Linked DNA regions of Homo sapiens. The protein of the gene in region 1 interacts with the protein of each later gene in a biochemical or structural test. Each region holds a gene or a part of one and is shown in the gene's direction. Other genes may lie near its edges.

Region 1 (3,655 bases):
CCCCAGCTTTGTTAGGCAATGTGCTTTTATTTTTATTTTTGATTTTGATTTTTTGTGTTTATTTTTATTTTAAATGAGGTCTCGCTGTATTGCACACAATCATCCTGAATTCCTGGGCTCAAGCTATCCTCCTGCCTTGGCCTGTCAAAGGATAGGATTACAGGCATGAGCCACCACACCTGGCCTTGTGCTTTGATTTTTTTACCATAGACCGGCACATCTTCCATTAGCTCAGCCTTTTTTCTCAGCCTTTTCTTCTAGACAGGAAAATGTCCTCAGAACAAAAGTTACTTGGTGTATGGTTTGTTTCTGGTTTACCTTCACATGGAATTTGGTAAGTAATTTCACATTACTTTATTTCATTCATTATTTAGTTTTTTTGTTGGCGTCAGCAGAAAGGTTGGTCCTGTCTGCCACTACCATAAATAAAACCCTAATTGTCTTTCTTTTTTACTTCTGAGATTTGATTTTAATATATTTATGCTTTGAGCCAAAATTTTTTTAACTTAACTCATATATTTAAAAATTTTAATTTTTAATTACTATGGATACATAAAATGGGGAGTATGTGATATTTGATATAAGCATACAATGTGTAATGATCAAATCAGGTAATTGGGATATCCATTACCTCAAGTATTTGTCATTTCTTTGTGTTAGGGACATTTCATTTCCACTCATTTAATTGTTCTAAAACATACACTAAATTATTGTTAGCTGTAATTACTATATTGTGCTACTGAACACTATATTTTATTCCTTCTATCTAACTATATTTTTCTACCCATTAACCATCTCCTCTTGATTCTCCTCTCAACACTACCCTTCCCAGCCTCTGCTAACATCTTTTTACTCACTATCTCTATGACTTCAATTTTTTTGAAGCTTCCACATATGGGTGAGAACATGTGATACTTGTCTTTCTATGCCTGGCTTATTTCCCTTATAATGTCAGTCACATCCATATTGTTGAAAATGACAGGATTTCATTTTTTTTTTATGGCTGAATAACATTCCATTGTGTATATGTACCACATTTCTTTATCCATCCATTGATTGACAGTTAGGTTGATTCCATATCCTGGCTATTGTGTATAGTGCTGCAGTTAACATGGGAGTACAGATACCTTTTATATACTGATTTCCTTTCTCTTGGGTATATACACAGTAGTGGGATTGCTGGATTATAGTTCTATTTGTTGTGTTTTTAGGAAGCTCCATACTGTTCTCTGTTGTGACTGTGCCAGTTTACATTTCCACCAACAGTGTACAAGGGTTCCCCTTTCTCCACATTCTCACCAGCATCTGATATTGACTGCCTTTTCGATAAAAGCCATTTTAACTGGAGTGAGTTGATACCTCATTATAGTTTTGATTTGTATTTCTCTGATTATTAATAATGTGGAACATTTTTTTCATATGCCTGTTTGCCATTTGTATGTCTTTTTGAGAAATGTCTCCTCAGATCTTTTGCCCATTTTAAAATCAGATTTTTTTTTCCTATTGAGTCGTTTGAGATTCTTATATATTCTGGTTATTAATCCTTTGTCAGATATTAGTTTGAAATATTTTCTCCCATTCTACATGTTATATCTTCATTTTATTGTTTTCATTGCTGTGCAGAAGCTTTTTGGCTTGGAGAGATCTCATTTGTTGTTATTTTATTTTATTTTCTTGCTTTAGTTGCTTGTGTTTTTGAGGTCTTATTTAAGAAGTCTTTGCCTAGACCAATGTCCTGGAGTTTTTGCCTAATGGTTTCCTTGATTAGTTTCATAGATGTAAGTCTTTAATGCATTTTTCTTTGATTTTTGTATATGGCAAGAGTTGGGGTCTACTTTTGTTGTTCTGAATGTGGGCATCCAGTTTTCCCAACACCATTTATTGAAGAGACTGTCCTTTCCCAATGAGTGTTTTTGGCACCTTAGTAAAAAACTAATTGGCTTTAAATACACAGATTAATTTCTGGACTCTCTGTTCTGTTGTTCTACATGTCTGTTTTTATGCCACTATCGTGCTATTTTGGTTACTATAGCGTTGTAGTATATTTTGAGGTTTGGTAGTGTGGTAAGTCTACCAGTTACCAGCTCTGTTCTTTTTGGTCAGGATTGTTTTGGCTATTTGGGGTCTTTTGTGCTTCCATACAATTTTAGGATTTTTTTTTTCTATTTCTGTGAAGAATGTCATTGCTCTTGATAGGGATGGCTTTGAATCTGTAGATTGCTGTGGGAAGTATTGTCATTTTAACAATACAATTTTTTTCAACCCATGAGCATGGGATGTCTTTTCATTTGTTTGTGTCCTCTTCAATTAATTTCATCAATGTTTGATAGTTTGCATTGTAGTTGGTTAAGTTTATTTCTAGATATTTAATATTATTTGTAGCTATTGTAAATGGGATCACCTTCTTGATTTCTTTTTCAGATAGGTTGTCACTGTTGGCATAGAGAAATTCTATGGATTTTTGTGTGTTGATTTTGTATTCTGCAATGTTACTGAATTTATTAGTTCTAATAGTCGTTTGTTGGAGTCTTTAGGTTAGTATAAGATCACATGAGCTGCAAACAATGATAATTTTACTTACTCCTTTCCAATTTAAATGCCCTTTATTTCATTCTCTTGTCTGTTTACTCTGGCTAGGACTTCTGTTACTAACTTGAGTAATAGTGGTGAAAGTGCCCATCCTTCTTCTAGATCCTAGAATAAAGGCTTTCAGTTTTTCCCCCATTCAGTCTGATACTAACTGTGGGTTTGTTGTGTATGGCTTTATCATGTTGAGGGATGATCCTTCTGTCCCCAGTTTGCTGAGAGTTTTTATGAAGGGATATTGAATTTTATCAAAAAAGATTTTTTTGGCATCTATTGAAATGACAATACACTTTGTGTCCTTCATTCTGTTGATACCATGTATCACACTGATTGATTTACATATGTTGAACCATCCTTACATCCCTGGGATGAATCCCACTTGATTATGATGATCTTTTTAATGTGCTGTTGAATTTGGTTTGCTGTGTTTTGTTGAAGATTTTTATATCTATTTTCATCAGAGATACTGGCCTGTAGTTTCTTTTTTGTTGTTGTTGTATCGTTGTCTGGTTTTGGTATCAGAATAAATCTGGGGCCAGGCATGGTAGCTCACGCCAGTAATCCCAGAACTTTGGGAGGCTGAGGCAGGCAGATCTCTTGAAGCCAGGAGTTTGAGACCAGCCTGGCCGACATGGTGAAACCCCATCTCTACAAAAAATACAAAAATTAGCTGGGCATGGTGGCTTATGCCTGTAATCCCAGCTAATCTGGAGGCTGAGGCAGGAGAATCGCTTGAACCCAGTAGGTGGAGGTTGCAGATCACCTGGGCAACAGAGTGAGACTCTGTCTCAAAAAAAAAAAAAAAAAAAAAAAGAATAAATCTGGCCTCATAAAATGAATTTGGAGATCCTCCTTGATTTTGGAGAATGATTTGAGTAGGATTGATGTTAGTTCTTCTTTAAATGTTTGGTAGAACTCAGTGAAGCCATGAAGTCCTGGCCTTTTCTGTGATGGGGGACTTTTTATTATTGTTTCTATCTTGAAACTTATTATGGGTCTATTTCGATTTTGGTTTTCTTAATGTTTCATTCTTCTTAGGCTGTATGTGCCTAGGAATTTATTCGTTTCT
Region 2 (3,655 bases), on another chromosome or scaffold:
TCCAGTCATCTCCATTCAAGGCAAGAAGTGAAGAGGAAGGGGGAGCCAGCCTCCTAACTCATTTTGTCAGGAAAGCAGAAGCTTCCCTACCAACTCCTGTTTATGTCTGAGCATCTAGAACTTATCACATAACCAATGCTAGCTCTAAGGAGTGCTGGGAGAACAGGGAACAGGATCTATGACCTGAGGCTGAGAAGTCAGCCAGCCTAGAGAAAATCAGGATTCCAATCGCAAAGATGAAGGAAAGGATGGAAAATGGGAAAAGAACTGAAGGTGCCTTCTGCATCCCTGTTCCTAAAACGGTTATAGAGCCCTGGCTTCAAATTCCTTTAGACCACTAAAACCTCTCTCCTTTTTGAGACGGCCTCACTCTGTTGCCCAGGCTGGAGTGCAGTGGTGTGATCACAGCTCATTTCAGCCTGGACTTCCCAAGCTCTAGTGATCCTCCCACTTCAGCCCCCCAAGTAACTGGGACTACATGCACGCACTACCATGCCTGGCTAATTTTTGTGGTTTTTTGTAGAGACAGGGTTTTGCCACATTGCCTAGGCTAGTCTCAAACTCTTGGCCTCAAGCGATCCACCTGCCTCGGCCTCCCAGAGTGCTAGGATTATAGGTGTGAGCCACTGCGCCTGGCAATAACCTTCTTAAATCAGCACCAACCATTCTTTTTTCTATTCCTGCTAATAAAAGGCCATAATTTTGTCCGCCTTTAACTCCTGCCCCACCTTTTCTTACAGGTGTGTTTATCTATCGATCATCCTCAGAAGGTCTTAATTATGGGTGAAGCTCTTGACCTGGGAACCTGTAAAGCCAAGAAGAAGAATGGAGAGCCGTGCACGCAGACTGTGAATTTGGTTGGTTTCAGCCTTGTTAGGATGGTTTCTGCTAAAGAAAAGAACAGTTAGGAATAAACTGTTGGTGCTTTAGCTGTGATGACCAGTTTGGAACTGAGTTTCCCACTTAAAGGAAGAGTCAAAATGAGAAAATTTAATGTGTGGTTAATAACTGCCAGTTTAAAAAAGTGAGGGCAGGGGAAAGGTGAGGGGATTTAACCTCTTAGGAAAGTGATCTTTTATCTGACCAAGAAGTTTAAGACAGAATTTTTGTTTGCCTTTAATTCTTGTAATTCCACAGAGCAAACATGATGAAATACAATGAAAATTGTATTTTAGCCTATATTTTAACTCCATTATACCTTTTCTTAGGGCTTTTTAAAAAATAATAGCTTCATTTAGGTATAATTCACATACCATGCAATTCACCCTTTTAAAGTAAGCAATTCAGGCCAGGTGTGGTGGCTCACTCTTGTAATCTCAGCACTTCGGGAGGTCGAGGCGGACAGATCATCTGAGATCAGGAGTTTGAGACTAGCCTGGCCACCATGGTGAAACCCCATCTCTACTAAAAATACAAAAATTAGGCGGTCATGGTGGTGGGCGCCTGTAGTTCCAGCTACTCAGGAGGCTGAGGCCAGAGAATCACTTGAACCTGGAAGGCAGAGGTTTCAGTGAGCTGAGATCGCACTATTATACTCCAGCCTGGGCGATAGAGTGAGATTCTGTCTCCAAAAAAGAATATAAATAAATAAAGTCAACAATTCAGTAATTTCTAGTACATTCACAGAGCTGTGCAACCATCACCACTGTGTAATTTCAGAACCCTTTCATTGCCCCAGAAAGAAACCCAGTACCCACTAGCAATCACTCCCCAGTCTCCTCTCCCCCAGCCCCTGGTAAGCACTAACCTACTTTCTGTCTCTATGGATTTGCCTCTTCTAGACATTTCATATAATGGAATCACAATATGTGGCCTTTTCTGTCTGGCTTCTTTTGCTTAGCATAATTTTTCTCACAATTGATCCGTGCTGTAGCATTTATCAACACTTTATTCCTTTTTGTGGGTAAATAATATTCCATTGTATGGATATACCATACGTTGTTTATTCTTTCATCAGTTGATACACGCTTGGGTTGTTGCCACATTTAGCTATTATGAATAATGCTGCTAAAACACTCACATACAAGTTTTTATGTGGATGTATGTTTTCCACTCCCTTGGGCATATACCTGGGAGTGGGATTGCTGGGTCAACATGGTAACTGTCCAGAGTTTGGAGGAACTGCCAGACTGGTTTCCCAAGTGGCCCACCAGCAATGGATGAACTTTCCAGTTTCTCCCTGTCCTCATCAGCACCTGTTACTCTATTTCTTTTTTGTTATAGCCATTGTAGTAGGTGTGAAGAGGTACTTCTTAGAGTTCTTTGAAAGGATTAAATGACAGGTTTTGGTTTAATCTTTTTTTATTCCCTTATTCCTTCCTATTAGATTAATTGGTGGACAGGAAAGAATAAGGTGGGAGACGGTTGGAAAATGAGGTTTCAGAGTGAAGTACCCAACAGATCTCCCCGTGAGAATTAGATTCTTAAAAATCCATTGTCTGGATGGGGCGGTGGCTCACACTTGTAATCCCTGCACTTTGGGTGGCCGAAGTGGGCCGATCACTTGAGGCCAGGAGTTCAAGACCAGCCTGGCCAACATGGTAAAACCCCGTCTCCAGTAAAAATACAAAAATTAGCTGGGCGTGGTTGTGCACACCTGTAATCCCAGCTACTTGGGAGGCTGAGGCAGAAGAATCACTTGAACCTAGGAGTTGGAGGTTGCAGTGGGCCAGGATCACGCCACTGCACTCCAGCCTGGGTGACAGAGCGAGACTCTGTCTCCAAAAAAAAATCCATTGTCGCCGTAACTACTGTTCACCCAGCAGAACAATGCTGCACCATCTCTCTTTGTTTCTTTCACTGAAAGGATAGCACTTGTCCGAGGATCAACCAGAGAAACAGCTAGAAAAACCTCGCTGGGAGCTGATTTTGTTTTTAAATTATTTTTTATTGGGTCAAAATTCACAATATACAGTTAATCATTTTAAAATACATATATAATTCAGTGATATTTAGTTGTGTAACCACCAGCTCCCTGGTTTCAGAATTCCATCACCCTGTAAAAACAATGGCACCATAAAGTCATCACTCCCATCCCCACTCCCTCCGTCTCCTGGTGACGTCTAATCTGCTTTCTGTCTCTATGGATTTGCCTCTTCTATAAAAACTTCCTTTTATATTAAATAACATAGGTCCTATATTAAATAACATAGGACCTTGTGTGTCTGACTTCTTTCACCTAACTTGTTTTCAAGGTTCATCCTAAAAGCTGATTTCCTTTGTAGAAAGAGGGCAAGGGGTATTTCACCAGAACAGTGCTTTCAGGGGACTCGAAGGGAAGAACTTCTTCCCCTCAGGGACTGAGCAGCCCTTCCACATTGGGAACGGTCGTGGAGGTCAGCAGGGAGGACTCTGCATGCGTCATGTTCCGGGAAGTGGGGAGAAGGAACTGTGTCTGCTCACTGCTGTTTCCCAGCCTGTTGCCCTCATCCTGATGCCACTGCTCTGCCTTTTGCAGCGTGACTGTGAGTACTGTCAGTACCATGTCCAGGCTCAGTACAAGAAGCTCAGCGCAAAGCGTGCGGATCTGCAGTCCACCTTCTCTGGAGGACGAATTCCAAAGAAGTTTGCCCGCAGAGGCACCAGCCTCAAAGAACGGCTGTGCCAAGATGGCTTTTACTACGGAGGGGTTTCTTCTGCCTCGTATGCAGCTTCA
Region 3 (3,655 bases), on another chromosome or scaffold:
TCCTATGTTGCCTAAGTTGGAGTGCAGTGGGTATTTGCAGGTGCAGTCATGGTGCACTAAATTTGCAAACTCCGGGGCTCAAGTGATCCTCCCAAGTAGTTGGGATTGCAGGCATGTGCTACGCCACCTGGCTTCACAATTCTTATTTTTTTTTTTAGAGACGGGATCTGTCTCTCTCAGGCTGGAGTGCAGTGGTGCCATTATAGAACACTGCAGCCTGAAACTCCTGGACTCAACGAATCTTCTCACCTTAGCCTCCTGAGTACCTGGGATTATAGGCATGCACCACCAGGTCCGCTAATTTTTTTTTTCACTTTTTTCTAGAGACAGGGTCTCGCTATGTTGCCCAGGCTGGACTGGAAGTCGTGGCCTCAAGTGATCCTCCTGCTTCCATCTTCCAAAGTATTGAGATTACAGACATGAACCACCATGCCCAGCCACAACTCTTATTATTTTTTTAAGAAAACACTTGTTCATTTTAGAAAATTAAGGAATAGTCAAAAGAAGAAGTCATCTACATAGATGTTTTAACAACGTTATAATTTTAGAATCTGCTTTTTAAAAAGTAGAAAAATAATGCTAGACTGTTATGTAATCTTTACAAATATTTTGTTGCGGGTTTGGGAGCAGGTTGGCATAGGAAAATGCTTTCTTCTTGGTGTTCAGATTGATCTGGATTGAGGACAATGCAAGGTTTTCCTCTGGAGACAAAAGATCATTTATATGGATTACTTGATGTCTGAACTGATTCTATCAAACAATTCCTCTCCTCCCCTCATCAAATTTTAATTGAGAACTACTGTATTCAAAGCACTATTAGGCGCTATGGAGGACAAGGATATAAATAAGACCCAGTCCTCGTCATTAGTCTTCACAGTGGTGGAGAAATGAAACATAAACAAAAACGAATGAATATCTTAGAATTATAACTTAAACATACTTTAGCATCATTTAGTCTACCTCCAGATGAAATGCTGAGATCAGAGAAGTTAAACAATTTGCTTACGGTCCCAGTTAGTGATGGCCTTAAGGACTAGGACCTGTGTCTCTTTAATTCATGCCAGTTGTATTTTCTAAGTCATTCTGTTGTCTTCTTCGGACCTTAAGATCTCCACTTTTTTAGAATTTCCTCTTCAGGAAGTACTTGGGAAGTACTCTTCTGTTGATTACTGTGGCCAAGCTTCTTTACTTGAAAAGTGAAATACATTGGACCAGATCTTCTGGAGGTTGTCTATGGTGATGCTTAAGAGCGTGGGCTTTGGAGTTAACACCTGTATCAAGTCAAGACTCTGCTACTTAACTGTGTGACCTGGGGGAACTTACTTAATCTCTCCTAGTCTCCTGGTTTCCTTGTGCATGACGTGTGAAAATACCTTCTTTACAAAGTTGTTGTGATAATTACATGAGATAATTTTGTGAAGTAATAGCACAGTGCCTGGCACATAGCAAACACTCAATAAGTGACAACTGTGTTTTTAGAAAATTCAAATGTGAAGGAAGTAAAACTTTAATATACGTACAGGAAAGCTCACATAAGTGTATAGCTTGATGAATTTTTACAAGCTGAGTACACCTGTGTAACCAGCTCCAAATGAGGAAATATTAGCACACAGAAGTCCCTCTTGAGGGCTCATGTTACCTAGGGGTAACCACTATCCTGATGTCTAACAGTATGGATTACTTTCAGCTGTTTTTTATTTAAATACTTATGGGCTTTTTATGCTCAACATTGTGTTTATGAGATTTATCCATGTTGTGTATAGGTGTGTTTCATACATTTTTATTGCTGTATAGTATTCATTTATGTGAATATACCGTGTTTAACCATTACACTATTGATGGCATTTTTACACTTTAAAATTTTTGACTACTAGGCATAATGTTGCTATGAGCATTACAATGCATGGCTTTGGGTGAATGTTTCTGTTGGGTATTACCTAGGAGTGGAAAAACTGCTTCAGAATGTAAGCATATATTCAGCTTTAGAGGGGAAGTAAGAATCTTAATTTAGATGTTAATATAACCATAGTCCATTCAGACTATGGGTTGCCCCTTCCATTCGATGGTTGTTACTAAAACAGACAGGAACACAAAAAGCTAGAGAAGGTACTTGGCTTTTTTTGTTACTGAATAATAAAATTTTATGAAGTCATCTTATTTGCCATGACAGGTGAGTGTGGCATTTTTAAGACAGGACGGAGATCACTCTGTCCCTCTGTGTGCCTTTTTCTAGGATGAGGAGAACAATCCCCTTGAGACAGAATATGGCCTTTCTGTCTACAAGGATCACCAGACCATCACCATCCAGGAGATGCCGGAGAAGGCCCCAGCCGGCCAGCTCCCCCGCTCTGTGGACGTCATTCTGGATGATGACTTGGTGGATAAAGCGAAGCCTGGTGACCGGGTTCAGGTGGTGGGAACCTACCGTTGCCTTCCTGGAAAGAAGGGAGGCTACACCTCTGGGACCTTCAGGTAAAGGGTCTGCCTTAAAGTATATGGAATGCTGTTGACAGCTTCCATTTCTGGTAATATCCTTTCTCCAGTTTGCCATATTCCAGAGAGTTATATCTGATAGGTGGAGCACTCTACCTGCCTGGGAGACAGGATACCTTCAATACCTCTTTTCTATCAGATAAAGCTGGTGATACTTAACCATCATATGCCAAAAATGAGAGTTATTGGTGACAATGATTACAGCCTCATGGCTTTCCTGGGAGTTTCTCATTTAATTACACTTCGTCCCCATACACAGTTCTGTCTGAAGTTCTGTGGGTCAATTCCAGAGGTGGGGCATGATCAGCATATTTGGATCACAGACAGAACCAGTTGTTTAATTCACAATAGCTACCTGCCCCCTCCCCACCAACTCTAATTGGCTGGTCTAGTTTGGCAGCCTAAAAAGGCTTACTCCTGCTAGGGGTACTAGCTACTGATGTTAGGAATTGAATATAACGGGTTTCCTCTTTATTCTGTTTGTCCCAGGACTGTCCTGATTGCCTGTAATGTTAAGCAGATGAGCAAGGATGCTCAGCCCTCTTTCTCTGCTGAGGATATAGCCAAGATCAAGAAGTTCAGTAAAACCCGATCCAAGGTCTGGGCATCCTTTAGAAATTTGAGGGTGGGAATGGATTTCTAAGAGTTGTGTTTTGGTGCATGGCTATTTTTGTACTAGATCAGAAGGAAGGGTTGAGGTTTGGTGTTAGCTTTTTCTATTTTTGTCTCAATCAACAAATGAAGGGTGTTTTTGCTGTTTGTTCTTTAGTAATTCTGTTGTTATTAAACAATTTTAATACCTGCTACCTGCTGGGCTGCTAAATGAGCCTAGTACAAATATTAGGATAGGTGTTAACTTGCCCGTGTACCAGTAAGTCTATTTATTACTGAAGGCGTTAGTGATGCATTACTACTTAAACATTTTTTCTTTGTTTTAGTTCTCCAACTTGTTTTTATCTTTTTAAGATAGGATGTATATCCACATTTAGAATTGAACTACATATATGAATGTGTGATGATAAAGGTTACTGTTCAAGCACAGTACATGTTCTTATTAAACCTAAAATGTTTTGAACCTGGGGATACTTTTTTCCCTTAAAGATTAAACCTCTAAACAAGTTTTGGAATCCAGGCTGCTCTGTGCCTACTCTGATAATGGCCT

What was found.
Region 2: the proteins of ORC4 (region 1) and MCM10 form a complex in vitro, tested with the Homo sapiens proteins (one large-scale study listed by BioGRID and IntAct).
Region 3: the proteins of ORC4 (region 1) and MCM3 form a complex in vitro, tested with the Homo sapiens proteins (one large-scale study listed by BioGRID and IntAct).

The regions. Positions count from the first base shown.
Region 1 is NC_000002.12:148,010,593-148,014,247, reverse strand, and holds part of ORC4 (origin recognition complex subunit 4), read left to right. Parts: intron 1-3,655. UniProt on the Homo sapiens protein: Component of the origin recognition complex (ORC) that binds origins of replication. DNA-binding is ATP-dependent. The specific DNA sequences that define origins of replication have not been identified yet.
Region 2 is NC_000010.11:13,185,424-13,189,078, forward strand, and holds part of MCM10 (protein MCM10 homolog), read left to right. Parts: intron 1-740; coding exon 741-857; intron 858-3,457; coding exon 3,458-3,655. UniProt on the Homo sapiens protein: Acts as a replication initiation factor that brings together the MCM2-7 helicase and the DNA polymerase alpha/primase complex in order to initiate DNA replication. Additionally, plays a role in preventing DNA damage during replication.
Region 3 is NC_000006.12:52,278,178-52,281,832, reverse strand, and holds part of MCM3 (DNA replication licensing factor MCM3), read left to right. Parts: intron 1-158; exon of another isoform or gene 159-280; coding exon of another isoform or gene 281-292; intron 293-2,233; coding exon 2,234-2,472; intron 2,473-2,982; coding exon 2,983-3,091; intron 3,092-3,655. UniProt on the Homo sapiens protein: Acts as a component of the MCM2-7 complex (MCM complex) which is the replicative helicase essential for 'once per cell cycle' DNA replication initiation and elongation in eukaryotic cells.